Homo sapiens: one gene and its partners. The protein of the gene in region 1 purifies or fractionates together with the protein of each later gene. This does not show direct contact. Each region holds a gene or a part of one and is shown in the gene's direction. Other genes may lie near its edges. The genes, in order: FLYWCH2, TBC1D23 and HSPBP1.

Region 1 (7,927 bases):
CTCAGCTCACTGCAACCTCTGCCCGCCGCGTTCAAGCGATTCTCCTGCCTCAGCCACGTGAGTAGCTGGGATTACAGACTCGCGCCATTAAGCCCAGCTAATTTTTGTATTTTTAGTAGAGGTGGGGTTTCACTGTGTTGGCCAGGCTGGTCTTGAACTCCTGACCTCGTGATCTGCTCACCTCAGCCTCCCAAAGTGCTGGGATTACAGGTGTGAGCCACCGCGCCGGGCCAGTGATTTTTATTATTTATTTATTTATTTATTTGAGACGGCGTCTTGCTCTGTCACCTAGGCTGGAGTGCAGTGGCGCGATCTCGGCTCACCGCAACCTCCGCCTCCTGGGTTCAAGCAATTCTCATGCCTCAGCTTTCCGGGTAGCTGGGATTACAGGTGCATGCCACCACGTCCAGCTAATTTTTGTATTTTTGATAGAGACAGGGTTTCACCATGGTGGCCAGTCTGGTCTCAAACTCCTGACCTCAGGTGCTCCATCTGCCTCGGCCTCCTAAAATGTTTGGATTACAGGCGTGAGCCACCGCGCCCAGCCACTAAAGTGATTTTTAAAAGTGTAAACACTGCCACTCACTGATTCCTTTGGTTTAAAGATATACAGTGGGTTAATTACCACTGTTTTTAATAAATCTGTTTTTAAATTTATCAGTTTAAGTTCCTTTTTTCCAAGACGGAGTCTTGCTCTGTCGCCCAGGCTGAAGTGCAGTAGCATGATCTTGGCTTACTGTAACCTGCCACCGCCACCCGCGGCTCTGGTTTAAGCAATTCTGCCTCAGCCTCTGGAGTAGCTGGGATTACAGGCACATGCCAAAACACATGGCTAATTTTTTTGTATTTCTAGTAGAGATGGGGTTTCACCATGTTGGCCAGGCTAGTCTCGAACTCCTGACCTCATGATCTGCCTGCTTCAGCCTCACAAACTGCTGGGATTACAGGCGTGAGCCACTGCACCCAGCCGTCTTGTTTTTTTTCCTCACTCTGTTGCCCAGGCTGGAGTGCAGTGGCATTGTTTTGTCTCACTGCAACCTCTGCCTCCCGGGTTCAAGCCTCCCACGTAGCTGGGATTACAGTCGCCCACGACGACCACACCCTGCTAATTTTTGTATTTTTAGTAGAGACTGGGTTTCACCATGTTGGCCAGGCTGGTCTCAAACTCCTGACCTCAGGTGATCCACCTGCCTTGGCCTCTCAAAGTGGTGGGATTACAGGCATGAGCCACTGCACCCAGCCTAAATTTCTATATAGTAAATATTGATAGATGTAACCCACATAACTAAAATCTCTCTGAGCGTCTCAATAACTAACAGTGAAAATGATGGCGGCAGGAGGCAGACAAATCCCCAGGCAGACAGAGACAGATCCCATCCCTGGTGAAACTGGCCTTCAAACCAAAGACATTTTAAAGCCTGAAAACCAAGCTACAAGTCTCTGATAAATTCATGGAACATACTGAGAACCTCTCTTCCCGTGTGGCCCACTTTCCTCTGACTGATCCCCACATTTCACCTATTTTACATACACCTACCCTTCCCTAACTGGTTGTTTACACTGTCATGCCCAATTTTGAGTGCCTTTTAAGCCTTTTTTGCATACTCAGAAACCAATCAGCATGCACTCCCCCATTCTGAGCCAATAAAAACCTCAGACTCAGCCACACTTGGGGTCTACACACCATGGCGGGGGGAACTACCCGACTTTGAGAGGGTCCCCTCTTCGCTGAGAGCTGTTTGTTAGCTCAATAAAACTCTTCACCCTGCTCACCCACTGGCTGTCAGCATAACCTCATTCTTCTTGGATGTGGGACAAGAACTCTGGAGGGTCTACCACTGGTAGGAAAAAGGCTGTAACACTGTAGCCCTCCACCCACCCCCAGAACCTGCCCAGGCAAGAGGAAATAGCAGTGGGCTGGGCCAGCCCTGAAGCTGAGGACCCAAGGGGGGCAGCGGGATTGAAAGAGCTGTAACATGACACAAATGGCGGAATGGGTGGGGTGTCTCCTGCACCGAGCCCAGGCCAAGGGAGGCCTGAACAGGGGTGCTGCTGGCCATGGAGGTCTCTGGCTGACTAAGGGGCACTGAAAAATCCTGTGTCATAAGTGGTTCTGAGACCAGAAAGTTTGAGAATTGCTGGACTAAGGAATATAAATTTTAAAACCAAGACTCACCAGGCACGGTGGCTCATGCCTGTAATCCCAACACTTTGGGAGGCCGAGATGGGTGGATCACAAGGTCAGGTGTTCAAGACCAGCCTGGACAACATAGTGAAACCCCGTCTCTGCTAAAAACACAAAAAAAATTAGCCGGGCTTAGTGGCGGGCACCTGTAATCCCAGCTACTTGGGAGGCTGAGGCAGGAGAATCACTTGAACCCAGGAGGTGGAGGTTGCAGTCAGCCGAGATCACACCACTGCACCCCAGCCTGGGCAACAAGAGTGAAACTCTGTTTCAAACAAAAACAAAAAGAAACAGAAAACAACCAAGACTCTTATCAGTCCACATGACAATACTCTGTGAATTCTCACAATGGCTGTAGGAGGTGGGTGCGTTATCACCCCCATTTATCAGGTGAAGACACTGAGGCACAGAGAGGGGATGTAATTGCTCATTCACACAGCTGGCAATTGACACAGCAGGGACTTGAACCCAAGCATCTAACCCCAAGCTTGTGCACTTCCTTGGGGACAATTTGGCTACATGTTTAAAAAGCTTTTAAAAATATTTGCCTCCTTTGACCTCTTTTAAGACTTTCAAGAAATCTTTGGCTGGGTGCGGTGGCTCACACCTGTAATCCCAGCACTTTGGGAGGCTGAGGCGGGTGGATCACGAGGTCAGGAGTTCAAGACCAGCCTGGCCAAGATGGTGAAACTCCGTCTCTACTAAAAATACAAAAAAATTAGCTGGGTGCGGTGGCAGGCGCCTGTAATCTCAGCTACTTGGGAGGCTGAGGCAGGAGAACCACTTGAACCCAGGAGGCGGAGGTTGCAGTGAGCTGAGATCGTGCTACTGCACTCCGGTCTTGCCAACAGAGTGAGACTCTGTCTCAAAAAAAAAAAATCTTTAATATCTCGACAGGCAAGGTGGCTCACATGTCTAATCCCAGCACTTTTGGAGGCCGAGGTGGGCAGATCACCGGAGGTAACTCCGGTTTGATACCAGCCTGGCCAACATGGTGAAATCCCATCTCTACAAAAATATAAAAATTAAGCATGATTACCGGTGCCTGTAATCTCAGCTACTTGGGAGGCTGAGGCGGGAAAATCGCTTGAACCCGGGAGGCGGAGGTTGCAATAAGCAGAGATCACGCCACTGCACTCCAGCCTGGGCGACAGAGCGAGACTCCATCTCAAAAAAAAAAAAAAAAAATCTTTGACATCAGAGATTCATATACAAAGATATTTATAACATCATCAAGTTAAAAACAACCAGTAGTCTGTGAATGATTAATAGATAACAGCAAATAAATGCACAAAGGTAGCTGGGCACGGTGGCTCACTCTTGTAATCCCAGCACTTTAGGAAGCCGAGGCGGGTGGATCACCTGAGGTCAGAAGTTCAATACCAGCCTGGCCAACATGGTGAAACCCGTCTCTACTAAAAGTACAAAAATTAGCCGGGCGTGGTGGCGGGCGCCCGTAATCCCGGCTACTCAGTAGGCTGAGGCATGAGAATTGCTTGAACCCGGGAGGCAGAGGTTGCAGCGAGCCGAGATCACGCCACTGCACTCCAGCCTGAGCGACAGAGCGCAATTCTCGTTTCTAAAAAAAAAAAAAAAGCACAAAGGCCTTGAATGACACCAGACAATGCCCGGGGAGATAGGATAGTGGGATGGGGGCAGCGGGAGCCTTGGTAGCGGAGTCCACGGTGGGATTCAGAGACCTGCAGAGCCAGGGCCGGGAGGGGCAGGGCAGAGGAAGGGCGTGCAGCGACGCTGGCATTCGGACGTGAGAAGGCGGAAGGTGCGGGAGGCCCCAGAGGATCTCGACCTGGACCCTGGAGCCCTGGGGCGGTGGCACATTCAGCGGCCGCTTTAGAGCGAGGGGGGCGGGGCGCGGAGCCAGGCTTAGGGGGACCAAGGTGGCCGGGGTAGTGGGGGCGACCCCGCGGGGCTGGGAGAGCCGCGGTGAGCCTAGGGGGCTGTGCGGGGGCCGCTCTGGACGCTGCAGCCAAGTGTCCCAGGAAAGCAGCGCCCAGGGCCCCACAGCTCCCTGTGCCCGGACCCAGCCCAGTCCCACTGCAGTGGGTGGCTGGAGGATGGCGAGTGTCCCGGGCACCCCTTGGGCCGGGTGAACGTGGTTGGGCACGGAGAGGGCGGGGCCCGTGGGCACGGGTGGGCCCAATGGGCCAGGGCTGGACCAATAACGAGAAAGGATGAATGGACAGGGGCTGAACTACAGAGAGAGGGCGGGACTATTGGGCGAGGGCTGGACCAATGGGCAGGGGCTAAACTAATAGACGAGGGCTGGACCAATGGCGCGGATGAGGCTGCTGCGTCGTCAAGGATGCAGAGCTTAAAGCAAGGCAGTGGCTTCCATGAGCCTAAACACCTTCCCTCCGCACGCTCGGTATCGCGACGGGGGAGAGCAAAACCTTTAAACAAATGCTCCAGTTTTCCCCGCAGAGAGCCGGAGTCAAATCCGTGAGGAAGCCCGGGGGTCGCAGTGAAGCCCAACCCACTGGTGCTGGGATAACCTCGCCCGCAACCCGGATCCAGGCCGCAGGTCCCCCGAGGCTCCGCCCCTGACGGCGACACTCAATCCCGGGTGTCCCCGCCCCCTTACTGAATTTTGGCCCCGCCTCCGCCCTCCGATTGGCCGGACGCCAGCTCTACGCCGCACGGGCAAGACGCGGAGGAGCGGCCCCAGCCAGAAGACAGGGCACCCGCGGCCTTGCTGCGCATGCTCGCGCTGTGACCCCGGCTTGAGGTAACAGCGCGAGCTGAGGCTGGGGCCCTTGGCGCGGAGGCTGAGGGACCCGCCGCGGCGCTGTCGCCGGAGAGGGAGGGCACCGCTGTCGTCGGTGAGGACGGGCCCTGGCGGGCGGGGAGGGTCCTGCGTCCTCGGCATGGACGAGTCCCCGGCCCGGCTCTCTCGGGGGTCCCGAGGGCTGCGGGTGCTGAGGAGGGGTCCGCGTCCTGGTGCTCAGGCCGCCTCCTGTGGGGTCTCCCGCGATTCCCTCTTTGCCTCTCGCCCCTCCTTCCCCACCCCCTCCAGTCCCTTGTCCAAAGCCTCAACACCCCCACACGAAGGAGGTCCGCACTCGCCCGCCGGTCCCTGGCCGTGTCCGCCGCGCCCAGCGCTGCCTTCCCGGCACCCCCCAACCCCCGCCGGCCTCGTCCCACGGTTGCAGCTCGGGAGGTCCCTGCAGGGACGGCAGCGAGTTGGAGGCGTGAGATACTGGGGCGGGGGAGACACTCGGGGCCTCAGGGTGTGGGTATTCTTGAGAGAGGAGAGAGCCGGGGAGCTGGGACCATTTGGGCGCAGCCCAGCCCGCGTTTGATGCCAATTGCATTGGGTAAAGGAGTGAAATAAAGATTCTGAGCCCTGGTGATTAGGGGAAGGAGCTGCCATGGCTGAAATTGCCATGGTGGGGAAGCTCCGCGCTGCACACCTTAGAGTAGCAGTTCTTGGCCTTCTTGGGGCAGGGGTCACTGCCGGTTTTTTAAATCTCCCTGTGAGGACGTGTACTGCACACCTTAGTGTCCCGTCATCCTGTCGGGGTCAATAACAGCCCCGCTGTGGACTGCGTGGAGCAGTAATTATTGGGGAGCAGCTGTCCATATCGTCTGGGAACTTTTGCGATGACTTCACCCTTGCCTGTCATCTATTAACAGCCCCTGATAAATTCACCACTATTTCCGTTACGCAGATGAAACCTGCTGGGAGGGTAAGGGATTTGTCCTCGCGGCTGAGGATGCCGGTGCTGGTGGACATTAGTGATGTTTCTCCCCCGTGCGTATGAAGATGATTCTGTGGGTCCACCATGAGGCACCAGGCAGGGGTCCTGTCGTCCAGAACATCGTCAGTGAGGGATTGAACCTTGTATTAGTTTCCTGTTGCTGTCCTAACAAATAAGGTGGCTTAAAGCAACACAGGCCGGGCGCGGTGGTTCACGCCTGTAATCCTAGCACTTTGGGAGGCCGAGGCAGGCAGATCACAAGGTCAGGAGATAGAGACCATTCTGACTAACATGGTGAAACCCCGTCTCTACTAAAAAAAAAAAAAAAAAAATACAAAAATTAGTCGGGGCCGGCGCGGTGGCTCACGCCTGTAATCCCAGCACTTTGGGAGGCCAAGGAGGGTGGATCACCTGAGGTCGGGAGTTCGAGACCAGCCTGACCAACATGGAGAAACCCCGTCTCAACTAAAAATACAAAATTAGCCGGGTGTGGTGGTGCACGCTTGTAATCCCAGCTACTTGGGAGGCTGAGACAGGAGAAAGGCTTGAACCCGGGAGGCAGAGGTTGCAGTGACCCAAGGTCGCGCCACTGCACTCCAGCCTGGCCGACAAGAGCGATACTCCGTCTAAAAAACAAAAACAAAAAAAAAACTCCGGGTGATTCTTAGGGATAGTGACATTGGGGAACTGCTGTTCATATGTTCATAGACTCAATTTACCTTTTTCTGAATATTTAACAACTTTATTGAGATAATTCACATACCGTGCAATTTACCCATTTAAAGTGTACATTTCGGCCGGGCGCGGTGGCTCACGCCTGTTATCCCAGCACTTTGGGAGGCCAAGGAGGGCGGATCACGAGGTCAGGAGATCGAGACCATCCTGGCTAACACGGTGAAACCCCGTCTCTACTAAAAATACAAAAAATTAGCCAGGCGTGGTGGCAGGCGCCTGTAGTCCCAGCTACTCCGGAGGCTGAGGCAGGAGAATGGCGTGAACCCGGGAGGCGGAGCTTGCAGTGAGATCACGCCACTGCACTCCAGCCTGGGCGACAGAGCGAGACTCCGTCTCAAAAAAACAAAACAAAACAAAAAAAAAAATATACAGTTCAGTGGCTTTAGTGTGATCACAAAGTTGTGCAACCCTCATGAAAATTCCTTTTAGGACATTTTCATCACCCCATAAAGCACATACCCACTAGTAGTCAATTCTCATTCTCCCCTTCCCCACCCCAATCCCGAGATAACCACAAATCTACGTTCTGTCTCCATAGATTTTCCTACTCTGTAGATTCTCTAGACTCTAAGTAATTTCATGTAAATGGAATCATATAATATGTGGTCTTTTGGGTCTGGCTTCTTTTACCGAGCATAATTTCTTCAAGGTTCATTCATGTTGTAGCATAGATTTTTTTTACTGCCAAATAATATTCCATTTTATACATGCACCACATTGTACTTATTCATTCATCCATTGATGGATATTTGGGCTGTTTTGAATATCCATCGAAACGTTTTGGCTTTCATGAATAATGCAACTGTAACATTCATGTACACATTTTTATGTGGACATGTGTTTTCCTTTCTTCCAGGCATATAGCTAGTAGTGGAATTGCTGGGTCATAGGGTAACTCTACATTTAACCTTTTGAGGAACTGCCAGGCTGGTTTCCAAAAATGGCTGCACCATTTTACATTCCCCTCAGCAGTGTATGAGGGTTCCAGTTTCTCCTCATCCTCACCAGCACTTGCTATTATCTGTTTTTTGTTTGTTTTATTATGTCCATCCTGGTGGTGTGAAGTGATATCTCATTGTGGTTTTGATTTGCATTTCCCTGGTGACTAATGATGTTGAGCATCTTCTCATATATTAGCCATTTGTATATCTTCTTTAGAGAAAAGCCTGTTTGGAGCCTTTGCCCATTATTATTATTATTGTTATTATTTTTTTTTTTTAGACGGAGTACCACTTTGATGCCCAGGCTGCAGTGCAGTGTAGTGCAGTGGCGCCACCTCGGCTCACTG
Region 2 (7,102 bases), on another chromosome or scaffold:
TTTCATTTTCATGAATGGAGGAACCCTAACATGGTCGGTGATTTCTGTTTTCCCTCCATCCTCTTCTAATCTTTCTCCTTTTTATCCTGGCACTCTCATCAGCCCCCCAGAAGAGGATTTGAATAGGAAGACTTTGGGATTGGGAGCCAGAGGTTCAGTAAAGGCTCTGTTCTTAGAGTGCTTGGTGAATGGGTTATAGAATGGGGATGCTTTACTCTTGTTTTGTTTTGTTTTGTTGAAGAAACGAGGTCTCGCCATGTTGCCCAGGCTGGCCTCATACTCCTGAGTAGCTGGGGACTACAGGTGTGCCCCATCCATCCGGGTGTTCTACTCTGTCTTTCTCTCCCCTCCCCCTCCCTCCCTCTCTTTCTTTATCTCTCTTTCTTTTTGGAGTAAATGTTTTTATTTTAACTCTGTCAGATGGAATTTTTTCTAAAATGTATCATATATCTTACTGCCTAGCTCAAACTCATCTTAATGACTTGAGTCATTCAGTTTACAAATGTAAGTGTAATTTAAGGATAGAACTAGGTCTCTGTCCTCAGGGAATTTATGTTCTAGATACAGGAGGCATGTTTGAGAACATCGATTACTTTTGTGTTATTGTAATGTGGTGAGACTTTTAGGGCCTATCTAGACAAATTGTTGCTATGTTAAGTGACACAGCTATCCCTTTTTGAGATTGCTTTTTATAAGTTTTTCCTATTTTCTTTTTTTGTTGTCAGTGGTATCTCAATTTGTTCCTAGTCTGTGAAACTAAGCCATTGAACTTGTTGAAATTGTATATACATTCTTAAAAAGGCTCAGGATGGACCTTGAAGATCTTAAAAGTATGTGGACTCTATGACATTGTTTTTGCTGATTTTCAGTTATGTTCTAGTTCACTGCTTCTCAAAATTTAAACGTACATTGGAATTATCTGGGGAGCTTGTTAAAATGCTCTCCAGGTAACTGTGATTGTGATTCAATATATTTTGAGGTGGAACTTGAGAGTCTCTGTTTCTGACTAGCTGCTGGGGGTTGCCAATTCTGGTGGTTTATGGACCACACTTAAGTTAGCAGGGTTCTAGGTTATATATATATCAGAATGAGTAGGTCAGAGGAATTTGTATATGTCACATTGTATCACCTTACATGTTATACTAAAATATGTGTAATTACATGACTTATCATTGTTCTTTAGATAATGAACTTCTCAAGGGCAGTGGCTGATAAAAGGCAGGTGTCTCAGTAAATGTTTATTGAATGAATGTACGCATGAATGAAAACTTTCCTGTAATTATGTGCAATAGCATACTAAGCTGTCATTTCATATAAATTTCCTGACTCCAGTGTTTTTGTGAGCTGTGGAATTGTCTGTTGGTATAATGCTTATTCTTTATGGAAAGCCAAAGTAATCAGAAAATGCCTCAGCTTTCAAGCTCCCTGGGATTCAGCCATGTAAGCTCAAAGGGTGTGGTGAAATTCTTGTAAAAATGCTTATAGTTAGTTTTAAGTGATTTGAATTTAATTTTAAAAAATTAATATAAGTTATGAGAATCTGGATTTGTAAAATTAAACATGTTAAATTGTTACAGTGAAAAGATTGGTAATTACCCTCCTTGGTATTGAAGAAACTAGCACTGGATTTGAACATATGTTCTCATTTTCCGATACTTTCTTCCCAAAATAATGTCTAAAGATCTATAGTCATAATTAAAAAATTATTTTGGTATTGACTTCAATTATATAACTGTTGAAATTGGGAGTTTGTTTAATTAAAAAATGTTACTTAATATTCAACTTTTAATTAGGGTTTTTTATTGCTAAACCTTTCTTAAGTTATTGCTAAACTTTTCTTAAAATTGTAAAAATATTAATTCCACAAAGAATCTTCTATTGTTGTTAATCTGAGATGTGAGTAGGAATTGTTTGAGAATAATATTTTTCAAAGTTTTCTGCACTCTGTAAATAGTACTATCAGTGTTCCCCATTTAATAAGCATTGAAATATGAGAAAAAACTTAAAATGTCTTTTAAGAACTAAGTGATTGAAATTTCAGATATGATATAATCAATAAAGAAATATATTAAATGTAAAAGAAAAAGGAACTGTTTGTCTAAGAAGGACATTGTCTACTTGTGGAACTGGGAAGGCTGGATACTACTTTTAGAAGAAATGAGAAAATGAACTTCATTTTTTGAATTGGGGTTATGATGTGACAGTTATTTGATTTTGTAAACTATAATTAGAGGGCAGGCAAAGATAAGAAATGAAAAAGACTTATTTTATACTGTTTACATTAAAGTCTTTAATTATAATTTAGATTTTAGAGTTTTTAAAGGTAATTTTTTTTTTTTTGAGACGGAGTCTCATTCTGTCACCCAGGCTGGAGTGCAGTGTGCGATCTTGGTTCACTGCATCCTCCGCCTCCTGGGTCCAAGGGATTCTCCTGCCTCAGTCTCTCAAGGAGCTAAGATTACAGGCATGTGCCACCATGCCCGGCTAATTTTTGTATTTTTAGTAGAGATGGGGTTTCACCATGTTGGCCAGGCCGGTCTCAAACCCCTGACCTCAGGTGATCCACCCTCCTCACCCTACCACAGTGTTGGGACTACAGGCATGAGCCACTGCACCCAGCCTAAAGGTAATTCTTAGGTAATAATTCACTTCTAGGATTTTGTTTCCTGTGGATGTTTTAATATCCATAATTTGAGTTAGTAATTGGTTTTTGCATGCTAAATAAATGTATTTCAATTAATTCATTTTTATCTCTGTGTAATCACTGCAGAGAGGCGACAAGTGCATTCCCTCTGTAAGTATAGTGAGCAATTCAGAGCACCCAGTTAAATATACTGTAATATGCAGCCAACTTTTAAGTAGGAGTCTTCTGGAGAGAATTGAGAAAATATGCTTGACAAAGCATTTCTGATGCACAGTGCTGAAATGTGGATTCTTTTTGGTATAAAGACAGTGCCTTCTCTCATGTGTCAAAAAGCAAAATAGAGTTTAGCAAAAACATTCTCAGTTCAGCAAACATTCACTGAATAGTGGTTATATTCAAGCTGCTGTGTAAGGTTTTAGAAAAAAATTTGAAACAGTTTTACAATCAGGAATGTGCATTGTGGTGCCTTCCTGGGATACTTTGATTTTTTTCATCATTTTATCTCTAGGAATACTGTGTGAAAATAGCTTCTGAAGATATCTAAATGCTGGTGTTTTGGAAATTACAGGCTCTAACAGAAAATAATAGGATTAAACAGTTTGAAAAGGGGCAGGGCTTGAAATGAGTTAAATATTGAGAATTACAGATGGAAAGCAGGTAAGTACCTTCCATTAAGCTCATAAAATCAAATTCTTTCTTGTAGAAATAAAGAATTTAAGAGCCACTTAAACCTATTTTCTGAAATTTAATGTCTGTTTGTTTCAAGGGTCTGCGTAACTTTTTAACCTGAGTTAAGAAAATGATGACTAATAAAGTCATTTGTTGCAAGTCTTCATCTTTTTTCTTGATGCTTAAAGGAGTTTTTTCTTATCCTTTAGCTGACATAGCATTTGATAGTTGGGTGGAAATCTTGTAGTGTTTGCTTCTTTTTTATTTTAAAGTAGTTGTTACATTAAACTAGTTGTTATGGTGGTATTTAATAATTTCAGCAAGGAGATATACAGGTTGAATATCTCTTTGGAATACTTGCATTATACTTAACCGGTTGAGCATCCCTAATCAAAAATCTGAAATCCATAATGCTCCAATGAGCATTCCTGTGAGTATCATGTTGGTGCTCAAGAGTTTCAGATTTTGGAGCATTTCGGAGTTGGGATTCTTGGATTTGGGATGCTCCACCTATATAAGAAAATACTGTACATTTGCATAGAGCGTTACTCTTTATATATAATGCTTATATATATTAATAACATCTCATTTGGATCTTAAAACAGCTCTATGAGAAAGCAAAGTTATGCATTGGGCATGATGGCTCATGCCTATAATCCCATCACTTGGGGAGGCCAAGGTGGGAGGATTGCTTGAGCTCAGGAGTTCGAGACCATCCTGGGCAACATAGTGAGGCCTCGTCTTTACTAAAAATAAAAAAAATTAGCCAGACTTGGTGGCACAAACCTGTAGTCCCAGCTACTTGGGAGGTTGAGGCAGAAGGATTGCTTTAACGGGATGAATCGAGGCTGCAGTGAGCTGTGCACACCAAGCCTGGTGACAGAGTGAGACTCTGTCTCTAATAATAATAATAATGATGTCCATGGGTTATTTTTCCTTTAAACAGTTTCTAACCTTTATTTTGAAGCCTCTGTGCATCACTTTGTGATGCAAAAGATTTATTCATCTCATATATATGTGCAATTTGAATACTAGAAATCCTTTATTTTGTGAATTCCATTTAGATTAACCATCAGCATGAAATTCAATGAAATCCTTTTATCAAAAAAAATGTTCCTTGATGGTTGGAATCCAGCTTAAAAAAAAACCCAATATGTATTTCTTTGCCAAACTATGATCCCCATTGGCATAGTACCCTTGAGAATTGTCCAAATGTTGCAAAGTGTTGTCACTTCATTTGCTGTAGTTGTTTCTTTATAACAACTATGTTTCTGAAATGATAGTTTCAAGACAAGGAATGTTGGTAATGTTTCTTTTATCATTACACTTTGGATAAAGTGGAAATTTGTAATTGACATAGGTAATATCTCTCTCTCTTTGCTGTTTTCGTGCCATTCTCTATCTTAGGCAAAAGTTACACTCTGTTTTTAGTTTCCAAATAAACTGCATTAGTGGGGTGGAAAAACAAGGATGCATTTCTTTGTGCCTTAAAAATACTGAAAAGTCACCTCATATGTATAGAAGGGAACAGTGTTGAGGATTTTTATTTTAAGAAAACATGAAAGAAGAAAGGATTTAGAGTGCTCGCTGAAGTTGACTGCTCATTAGAGAAATTTCCAATTTTGTAGTCAAAATCTTATAGCAAATGCATTGCAACATTACACATATAGTTATGAGAAACGTTTTTTGTGTATCTTTTTATTTTTTACTTAGGCAACAACTGAGTTTTTTTCTTAGCAGAGAAAAGGGCACCGTTGGTACCATTGGTGTAATTTGATCTTCATGGATTGTGGATCAAAAATAAATCTAAGATTTAAAACACCTGTTCCATTTGTAGTTAATTTTAGTAGCTTATAGAATAACATTTCTGTGATCTCTAGCCCTTTTGCCTATTGCATACAATGATGAAATACTGTAGCTATTAAATTTGCCTTGTGAAGCCAAGAGGACTAGATTTAGCACCGTCTTTACTTGGCTCAAGATCCTGATTAAAACACAAATTCTAGAGATTACATTATTCATAAGGGAATCTCCCAAAGCTGTTTTTGTGGATCTGGTCCTAATGCAAAATTTTACAAATTGTTTAAAGCTGGTGAATGGGTGTTTTTCCCCTTGGCATATAAATTTGTAACTTGTTAAAATGCTTGTAACAAGCATGTCTGATTCTGACACAAATCTAGATAACTTCACAATTATCAAATTGTATCAAATTGTTCTCACAAGACTTTAAGTTGTCAAGGTCTTTTCTGAATGTGCTATCATACTATTGAAATACTTGGAAAGTTTTGATGGTTTGAGGTTGGTATTTAAAAATAAGTTGCACAAGACATACTGTGGTCCTTGAGCTCCATGCATATCTACTGTACAAGTGAATCTGTAGCAAAGTTTTCTCTTTTCATTTCTACCAAATGTCATACAGAATATTCAAGAACTAATTAAGGAGTTTTGTTATGGTAGTACTTTGTAACCAGCGTCCTAACAATAGTAGCAAAATAAGTTCAGACAAAGCTTTGGTGCTGATGTCTCATTCCCTGGGCATTAAGAAACCCCCAGAAATGTGGTGGCACAAATTAAGCCATGAAACCACAATTCAATACATGCAGCTTGCCACTGCTTACTCACTGTTCCACAATTTGCTAGTGCTTATGACTAATTAGGTATTCACTTTAGAGTTTTAAGTAATTGGTCAGAGGCTTATACCTGATTAGGATATGTACATGGACAAGCTGGGCTGTCATGGTTTAATCTGAGCTTACAGTGATTTACATTCTAAACAAATATGAATAAATTGCACTTCAGAGCCGCTCCCACCTCTGTTCAACAGGATTTAGATGATAGGACTTGGACTAGAACCTTGGAATAGCCATCTGGCATGTAAGCTACATAAGAGCATTGACTTTTTTTTTCTGTACTGCATCCCCTGTGCCTCACACAGTGAGTAGCCTGTAGTAGGTGCTCAATACATACGTGTTGAAGGTTTGAATAAAAGAATACTTATGTCAGGGAAGGAAATAATTCAGTATATGGGTTAGGAAAGCAGAGGAAAATCTAAATGAGAGTGTTTTAAGAAGACAGTCAAACTTTGCAGTGTATGTAAAGGGGACGAGAGCTGAGAAAGATGACTAATGACTTCTGAGAGCACCTTTAGTAGAGTGATAGAGGTTTTGGGTGAATGAGAGAGTAAGTTTAGGTGAGTGGAGACTACTGTTTTCAAGGAAGTTGAACTGTAAAAGGAAGGAGAGAGATGACTTTTTGATGGGGAGTAGGTTATATTTATATATAGGACCCTTTAAGTAAGTAAATGTGAAAATTTTAAAGGAAAGGAGATAATCACAGGTTATATTTTTGAATGCTAGAAGTACTTTCAGTGAAGGTTTCTGAGTTCATTTGTTTTCTCTTGGCTCTGTTTAATACTGTTAGCAGACTCACAGGTTTGAATAATATCATATGCAATAGAAATAACATATTTAAGATGTTATTTTTTAACATCATGTCAGGCTTTGGGCTTTTATTGATTTCCCAGTAGTGTAGCTTTTGTATTTTTATTTTAAGAAAACAATAATAAATCTTAGACTTTGGCCACTTTAAGACACAATATTAATTTTTTTTAATGTGGTAATTGGATTTTCTTTGTAATTTCTCTATACTCTGCATTTAAGTGTAGAGTGATTACATACATTATAGACCCTACTTGGTCCTTTAAAAACTGCTAGTCTTCATTATTTTTATAATTACAGAAAAGGATTCAATTTTAAGAATTTTGAAGATTAGTGAAGCTGACTTAGCTTA
Region 3 (7,823 bases), on another chromosome or scaffold:
TCCTCCCTGAAACCCAGGAGTCCAGACCCCCAGGCCCTCCTCCCTGAAACCCAGGAGTCCAGGCCCCCAGGCCCTCCTCCCTCAGACCTAGGAGTCCAGTGCCCAGCCCCTCCTCCCTCAGACCCAGGAGTCCAGGCCCCCAGCCCCTCTCCTCCAGGACCTGAGTCTGCGCCCCCCACCCCCTCCATCCAGGGACCCAGGAGTCTGAATCCCAAGTCCCTTCTCTATGAGGGGCCCAGGGGTCTGGGCAGCCAGCCCCTGCCATTTGAATACCCTGAGTCCCGCCTCTGCCGCCACCTCCACCCTGCCCCCCGCCCCAGGTGTCCCCTTCTGCTAGGCTCACCTGTCTGTCCTTTGCCCAGCGTCTTCTCCAGCCGATAGGGGCCCACATATTGGGCGTGCTGGGGTGGGTGGGGGTGGGGGTGGGGGAGGTGGTAGGCGGGAGAGCCCCCACCTCCCTCCTTGGCCCCGGACGACATGGTGCCCTTGGTCCCGGCCCGACCGGTCCCCCGGCCGCCCCCCCTGCGGCCGTCGCCCCGTCTCTCCGGTGGGGGCCGGCGACCGCTCCGTCCCGGCCCCCCCGGCTGCCCCCCACCTCTCCGGGGGTCCCCAGGGGGCTGGGCTGGCCCCCCCCAGTCGGCGGGCCGCGGAGCTGGGGGAGGGGGGGCTGGCCCGGGGGGGTCAGGCCCCGGGAGTCAGCATGGCCCAGGGGGGCTGCGGGGCCCCCCCTCCCCAGCCCGTTTCTGGCCGGCCCCCCGCTTCCTGCGCCTCCCCCCGCCGGGGGGGTCTGAGGTGCGGGCCGGCGGATGCTGCAGGCCGAGGTCCCCCCCGCCCCCCCACGCGCCCTCTCTCCTCCGCCTCCTCCTCCTCTCCGCCTCCCCCCGCCACCTCGTCCTTTCTCTCCGGCACGCTGACATCACCATCCGGGGACTCCGGGCCCTTCCCCAAAGTTAACCCTTTCGGAGGGGGGAGGGGGAGCGAGGGGGGGCAGGGGGCGGGCCTCCAGCTGGAGGGATGGAGAGGAGGTGGGAGGATGCAGGAGAGAGGATGGAGGGAAGGATGGAGAGAGAGAGAGAGGACCCAACAGATGGGGCAGAGATGGAGATACACAAAGAGAGATGCTGGCTGACACAGAGACGGGAGACAGGCAGAGACGCCAGAGGGATGGAGACCACCAGAGACAGGCTGAGGCAGAGAGGGAGGAAGGGCAGAGATGGACAGGGACAGAAGAGAAGGAAGGAATGGCAAGCCGGGAAAACAGACAGGGAGAGGGAGAGAAAGCTGCTGGAAGCCGACAGAGGGATGGAGAGAGTCAGAGATTCAGAGAGACAGAGAGAGGAAGACCAACCAGAGAGGTGGGGGAGAGGGGGCGCAGATGGAGCTGTAGAGAGGGCCGGGGGTACACACAGGTGGAGGGACACGTGCTGGGGAGAGGTGGGGACATATGGAGGGAGACAGAGACAGAGAGGGGAAAGAATTCTTGGAGTTGCTGACCCAAAATTCATGTCTGTTTCCCCAGCCCCCTAAGGCCACCCATTCAGGGTAAGGGTAAGTCTGTGTCCCCACCAATGTCAAGGCCCCATATCTACCCACAGCCCAGAGTGATTTTGGATTCTCTTTACAGAGAAGCTTCCAGAACCCCCTCAGTTTCCCTGTGTTATGTTTTTAGACCCCCATATATTCTCTGTGCTCGTCATAGGGTCCTTTATATCTTCATGTGGACCCCAGTACAGCCCATACATCCCCACTGTAGCAGGTCCACAAGCATGTGCTCTGCCTGTGAGTAACCCGCCTGCCCCCATTAGCTTTCCGCATAAACCATAGATCCCTCTATGTCATGTACCCGCAAGTGTTAGACACCCATTTAATTCTCAAGTCCCCTGTAAAGCACACCCAGGGCTGGGCAAGGTGGCTCATGCCTGTAATCCCAATACTTTGGGAGACAGAGGTGGGAAGATCAGCCTGGGCAACACAGTGAGACCCCATCCCTACAAAAATTTTTTTAAAAATTAGCCGGGCATGGTGGCATGTGCCTGTAGTCCCAGCTACTTGGGAGGCTGAGGCTTGAGTCAGTGAGTTCTAGGCTGCAGTGAGCTACGTTTGCACCACTGCACTCCAGCCTGAGCAACAGAGTGAGGCCCTGTCTCTAACAAAAATAAAATAAAATAAAGTGCACACAGGAGCCTATTGGCTCCTGTGAGATTTCCCAGTCCCCCATTCAACACCTTGAGTCCACACATCTTTAATGAGTGCCAAATCTCAGCCAGGCACTGTTCCTGTTGGTAAGAACGTGGCAGTGACCTAAATCAGCAAAAAGGCCTGTCCTGTGGAGCTTCCATGCTGGTGGATGAAACAGATGATCAGCAAGGTCAATAGGCAAAATGTATGGTGTGTTAGATAATCATGTCCGTGCTGAGGAGGTGACTACAGCAGGGAAGGGGGTTAAGAGGGGCCTGTTGAGCAGGGTACAATTTTAGGCGTCCGGCTTTTTTTGTATTTTTAGTAGAGATGGAGTTTCACCCTGTTAGCCAGGCTGGTTCTGTAGCCTTTTTTTTTTTTTTTTTTTTTTTTTTTTTTTTTTTTTGAGACGGAATCTTGCTCTGTCTCCCAGGCTGGAGTGCAGTGGCACAATCTCAGCTCACTACAACCTCCACATCCTGGGTTCAAGCGATTCTCCTGCCTCAGCCTCCCGAGTAGCTGGGATTATAGGCACCCGCCACCATGCCTGGCTAATTTTTGTATTTTTAGTAGAGATGGGGTTTCACCATGTTGGTCAGGCTGGTCTCAAACTCCTGACCTTGTGATTTGCCCACCTCAGCTTCCCAAAGTGCTGGGATTACAGGCGTGAGCTACCACACCTGGCCTGGTTCTGTAACTATTGAGTCCCTTTTTGCTCTCAAATGTCTTGCTATAGATGAAAAATTATATGATCACCCTCTTTTTTTTGTTTTGTTTTGTTTTTTGAGACAGGGTCTTCCCCCTGTTGCCTAGGCTGGGGTGCAGTAGGGCAGTCATAGTTCCCTGCAGCCTCGACCTCCTGGGCTCAAGTGATCCTCCTGCCTCAGCCTCCTGCCTAGCTGTGATATAAGCAGATGCCATCACACATGGCTAATTCTTGTATTTTTTTGTAGGGCTGGGGACACACTATGTTGCCCAGGCTGGTCTCGAGCTCTTGGGTTCAAGTGATCCTCCCACCTTGGCCTCCCAAAGTACTGAGATTATAGACCTGAGCCACTGCCCCCGGCCATGTATTATAAACTGATAGACTTGTACATAGATGTCCGTGTCCTAATTCCCAGGATCTGTGCATAAGTTACCTTGCATGGCTGAAGGGACTTTGCCCATGTGACTGAGATAGGGAGATTATCCCAGTTATTTGGGTGAGCTCGATGGAATCACAAGAGTATTTGTGAGAAGGAGGCAGGAGGAGCAGTCAGTGATGGAGATGGGAAGGTGGAAGCAGAACTTGGGGTGATGGGGCCACCTGTCAAAGAAAGAGTGTGGCCTCTAGAAGCTGGAAAAGGCAAGAAAAACATTCTCCCCGAGAGCCTCCAGAAGTGATGCAATCCTGCTGACAGTTTGATTTCAGCCCCGTGAAACCCATTTTGGATTTCTGCCCTCCATAACTGCAAGATAATAAATGTGTGCTGTTTTAAGCCACCACATTCTTAGTAATTTGTTAACAGCAGCAATAGGAAACTAATATAATAGCACATCCACAGGCCCAGATGCATCTCACAGCACAGTGCTAGAAACACCACACACACACACACACACACACACACACACACATACACACACAACCTATCTGTTTGGTCTTCCTGTTTCTGCCCAAAATATCCCCCTGCACAACCACGCCCAGCAGGTGATTGATACGTTTGTGACTGTGTGCCCGTTTTGCGTTGAGCACAACCTTTTCCTGGAGGAAAACGCCTCCTATCCAGGATCAACACGGGAGTTTCTTTAAGCCCAGCCCAGGGCCAACACCTCTGCAGATCGGCCCGCACCAGCACGTGCCCAGGCCTAAACCCCACTTCTGGAGCACAGAGGCCTCGGGCCTCCCCACCAAGCTGGCTCCTCTGGCGCTCTGAATCTTGCTGGGCTCTGGGGCACTTTGCTTTCCGGCTCTAGGCCTCAAGAATCCTCTCCTCTCCACCTGGCAGGACATGGGGAAGAGTCCATGAGGGAGAGGCTGGGTGATGAGAGGGATCCACGCCGCAGCTCCACTTGACAGATGGAGAAACTGAGGCCGAGAGAGGGGTTGCGGGGGGCATAAGGCTCACAGGCCAGCCATTACGGTTGCGACCCCAGGGCTCCTGTAGATGGGGTTGGTGGCCCCGGTGGAGGCGAAAGTCAGATTAGTTGGGGCGAGGTCCCAAACCTTCTAAGGATGACTGACAGCAATGAGTGGGAGGGGCCTGTAAAGGGGCCGGGGCCCAACTGGGAGAGTCTGAAAGGCCTAGAGCAGGGGCGGGAATCGTAGGGTGGGCGGGGTCAGACCTGGGGGCGGGGCACACGTTAGAAGAGGGGTGGAGCTTGCAAAAGTATCGGGGGCGGGACTCGCTGAGGTGCGAAAACTGGGCCAGGGGCAGGGCTTTGACCAGCTACTTGAGCGTGAAGGGGCGGCGCCCGCACGAAGGGGCGTCCCAGCTTGGAGGCGGGGCCCGGATGGGAGGGGCGGGGCCGAGTGCAGTATCCCGCCAGGTGAGAAGGGGATAAGAGTCGGGCAAGCAGCTTCAGCCGCAACCACGGCACGAAGTTGGGTGGGTACGCCTGGCACTTCCGGGTGAAACCGTGCGTATTTCCGGTTAAGATGGCGGCGCCCAGCAGAGTCAGGTGCGGACGACTTTGTCTGTAGGAGCAGCGGCGGCTTGAGGACCCGGGGAGGTGAGATCCGCCTTATTCCGGCGCCCCTCTTCGGAGAGGAGGGAGAAGACTTGTTGCTAAGGAGACCAAAGGGCGGGCTTGTTGCTACGGAGGCGGAGCAGTGAGGTTGCTAAGAGACGGGACGCACGCAGTGGAGATGGGGAAGGGGGGTTGTTGCCAGGGAGAGTGGGTGGGGCCTGTTGCTAGGGAGAAAGGAGAGGCTTATGACTTTGGGGAAGGGTCCTGTGGGTATGAAGGAAGGAAAAGGGGCTGTGGTTAAGTGGGCTGGGGGCAGAGTGGTTTGGGGTCATGGGGGGTCGCCGAGCTCCCCTGAAACGCCGCCTTCTCAGCAGACCCTCAAGAATCGACCCATCAGGACGCCAGAGCTGCTTCAGCGGTGACCACCTTCTCCCTCTAACACATTCTTCCCTTCTTCACAAACGGCCCATGTCAGACGAAGGCTCAAGGGGGAGCCGCCTGCCCCTGGCGCTGCCCCCGGCCTCCCAGGGTTGCTCTTCAGGGGGCGGCGGCGGCGGCTCCTCGGCTGGGGGCTCGGGCAATTCCCGGCCCCCACGCAACCTCCAAGGCTTGCTGCAGATGGCCATCACCGCGGGCTCTGAAGAGCCAGACCCTCCTCCAGAACCGATGAGTGAGGAGGTAAAGGATGGGGACCCAAGAAGCTGGGGTGAGGGGCCTGGGGACAGATAGAGTTGCCTTGGGAAGTGTGACTTGGGGAGCCACAAGAAGACTAGGGTCTTCTTGGGTGGGAGGCAGAAAACCAGGTGTGGAGGCATTGTGGGCTATAAATTGTGCTAGATGGGGTTATCGTTGACTGAAGGTCAGATCTCAAGAGAGTCTGAGGGGACATATCCTCTCCAGAGCCAGACTAACCTGGATTCAGCATTTCCAGCTGTGTGACCTTGGGTATATTACTTCATCTTTCTGAATCTCAAGTTCTTCATTTACAAATTGATAATAATAATAACTACCGTATAGGGTAGTTCTGAGGTTCTACTTTAAGTAGGGCTGCACACAGTGCCCAGCATACAGACAGTGCTTCTGAAGGCAGCAGTGTGTTTTCATGAAGAGCACAGGCTCTGTAGTCAGACTGCTGTTTTTTTTTTTTTTTTTTGGTGGGGGCAGGGTTGGGGGTGGAGGACACAGTCTCGGCTGGAGTGCAGAGGCGCAGTCTTGGCTCACTGCAACCTCTGACTTCCCGGTTCAAGCAATTCTCATGCCTCAGCGTCCCCAGTAGCTGGGATTAGAGGCATGGGCCACCATGCCTGGCTAATTTTCGTATTTTTAGTAGAGAAGGGGTTTCACTACATTGGCCAGGCTGGTCTCGAACTCCTGGCGTCAAGTGATCCACCTGCCTCGGCCTCCCAAAGTGCTGAGATTACAGATGTGAGCCAGCACGCCCAGCCTAGACTGCTTGGGTTTGATTTCAGGCTTTGCCAATTGCTGACTGTGTGACCTTGGGTAAGTCTCAACCTTTCTGTGACTCAACTTTCTCATCTGCGAAGTGGGGATAACAATGATATATACCTCATAGAGTTGTTTTGCAGATTCATAGCGATAGCTATTATATATAATGTTTAATCGACAATTACTGTATACAGAGCATTATGCTAACCCACTTACATATATGATATCATTGAACCTTTACAACAGTGAGGCATGAAACAGGCACAGAAACATTAAATAGCTCACTCAAATTTACTTAGAACTGTGACTAAGGAGACCTCTGCTCCCCTCCCTCACCCCCAAAAATTCCAGCAGTCACGTATTAGCTCTCATCTCCTTTTTCTTTGAGATAGTCTCACTGTGTTGCCCAGGCTGGAGTGCAGTGGCCTGATCTTGGCTCACTGCAACCTCTGTCTCTCAGGTTCAAGCGATTCCCTTTGCTGCAGCCTCCCGAGTAGCTGGGATTACAGGCTCACGCCACCAGGCCTGGCTAATTTTTGTATTTTTAGTAGAGACGGGGTTTCACCATGTTGCCCAGGCTGGTCTCAAACTCCTGAGCTCAGGCAGTCTACCCACCTCGGCCTCCCAAAGTGCTGGGATTACAGGGATGAGCCACAGCTCCCAGCCGATATTTGTTGACTGAAGGAACATCAGCCCTCAGTTGTTGGCTGTCTTTATTAATGGCTGTTCCTTTGTAATGAATGACTGATGGATCTCCTTCTTTCCTCCTCGCCTTGGTCTCCAGAGGCGTCAGTGGCTGCAGGAGGCCATGTCGGCTGCCTTCCGAGGCCAGCGGGAGGAGGTGGAGCAGATGAAGAGCTGCCTCCGAGTGCTGTCACAGCCCATGCCCCCCACTGCTGGGGAGGCCGAGCAGGCGGCCGACCAGCAAGAGCGAGAGGGGGCCCTGGAGCTGCTGGCCGACCTGTGTGAGAACATGGACAATGCCGCAGGTACCCCGCTTCCCCCGCCAGGACGTTCTGCCCCTCTGTACATGTCCTGCTGCCTCTCAGCTCTTGCCCCTACTCTTGGGGCTCACACCGTCAGCCTCCCTGCTGCCTTCTCACCATCAGCCTGTTCGCCTCCATTGCCATAAGGAGCAAGGCTCTGCCTCACCCTCATGGCAGGTGGAGTCCCCCACTTCCCTGATCAGCTCTGAGATGGCTGTTTCTCTCCTAGTCCTCTGGGTGTCCACTGCCACTCCCCAGAGTACAAGAGGGAAAGTGGCATGGGTGGGGTGGCAGAGAAGGCCTCCCCGGGGTGACGTTTGATCAGAGACCTGAAGTGAGGTGAGAGTTGTGGGATGATCTCTGGGAAAAGCATTCCAGACAGTAGGAACAGCCAGTGCAAAGGCCCTGAGGCCAGAGTGTGCCTGGTGTGTTCAGGAACAGCAGCCAGGCCCTTGAGGCAGAGTAGAGTGAGTGAGGGGCCAGGCGCAGGAAACAGCGCTGGGGTGGGCCTCGCAGATGGGGAGGTAAATGCTGTTTTACTCCAAG

The links.
Region 2: the proteins of FLYWCH2 (region 1) and TBC1D23 purify together in Homo sapiens (affinity purification with mass spectrometry; 3 studies listed by BioGRID and IntAct, with this or other methods). This does not show direct contact.
Region 3: the proteins of FLYWCH2 (region 1) and HSPBP1 purify together in Homo sapiens (affinity purification with mass spectrometry; 2 studies listed by BioGRID and IntAct, with this or other methods). This does not show direct contact.

What each region holds. Positions count from the first base shown.
Region 1 is NC_000016.10:2,878,342-2,886,268, forward strand, and holds the start of FLYWCH2 (FLYWCH family member 2), read left to right. Parts: upstream 1-4,873; 5' UTR 4,874-5,025; intron 5,026-7,927.
Region 2 is NC_000003.12:100,263,948-100,271,049, forward strand, and holds part of TBC1D23 (TBC1 domain family member 23), read left to right. Parts: intron 1-7,102. UniProt on the Homo sapiens protein: Putative Rab GTPase-activating protein which plays a role in vesicular trafficking. Involved in endosome-to-Golgi trafficking.
Region 3 is NC_000019.10:55,277,099-55,284,921, reverse strand, and holds the start of HSPBP1 (hsp70-binding protein 1), read left to right. Parts: upstream 1-4,811; 5' UTR 4,812-4,887; exon of another isoform or gene 4,888-4,992; intron 4,993-5,065; exon of another isoform or gene 5,066-5,175; coding exon of another isoform or gene 5,176-5,313; coding exon 5,314-5,523; intron 5,524-7,075; coding exon 7,076-7,280; intron 7,281-7,823. Other genes in the region: serine/threonine-protein kinase BRSK1, read right to left, coding at 344-479. UniProt on the Homo sapiens protein: Inhibits HSPA1A chaperone activity by changing the conformation of the ATP-binding domain of HSPA1A and interfering with ATP binding. Interferes with ubiquitination mediated by STUB1 and inhibits chaperone-assisted degradation of immature CFTR.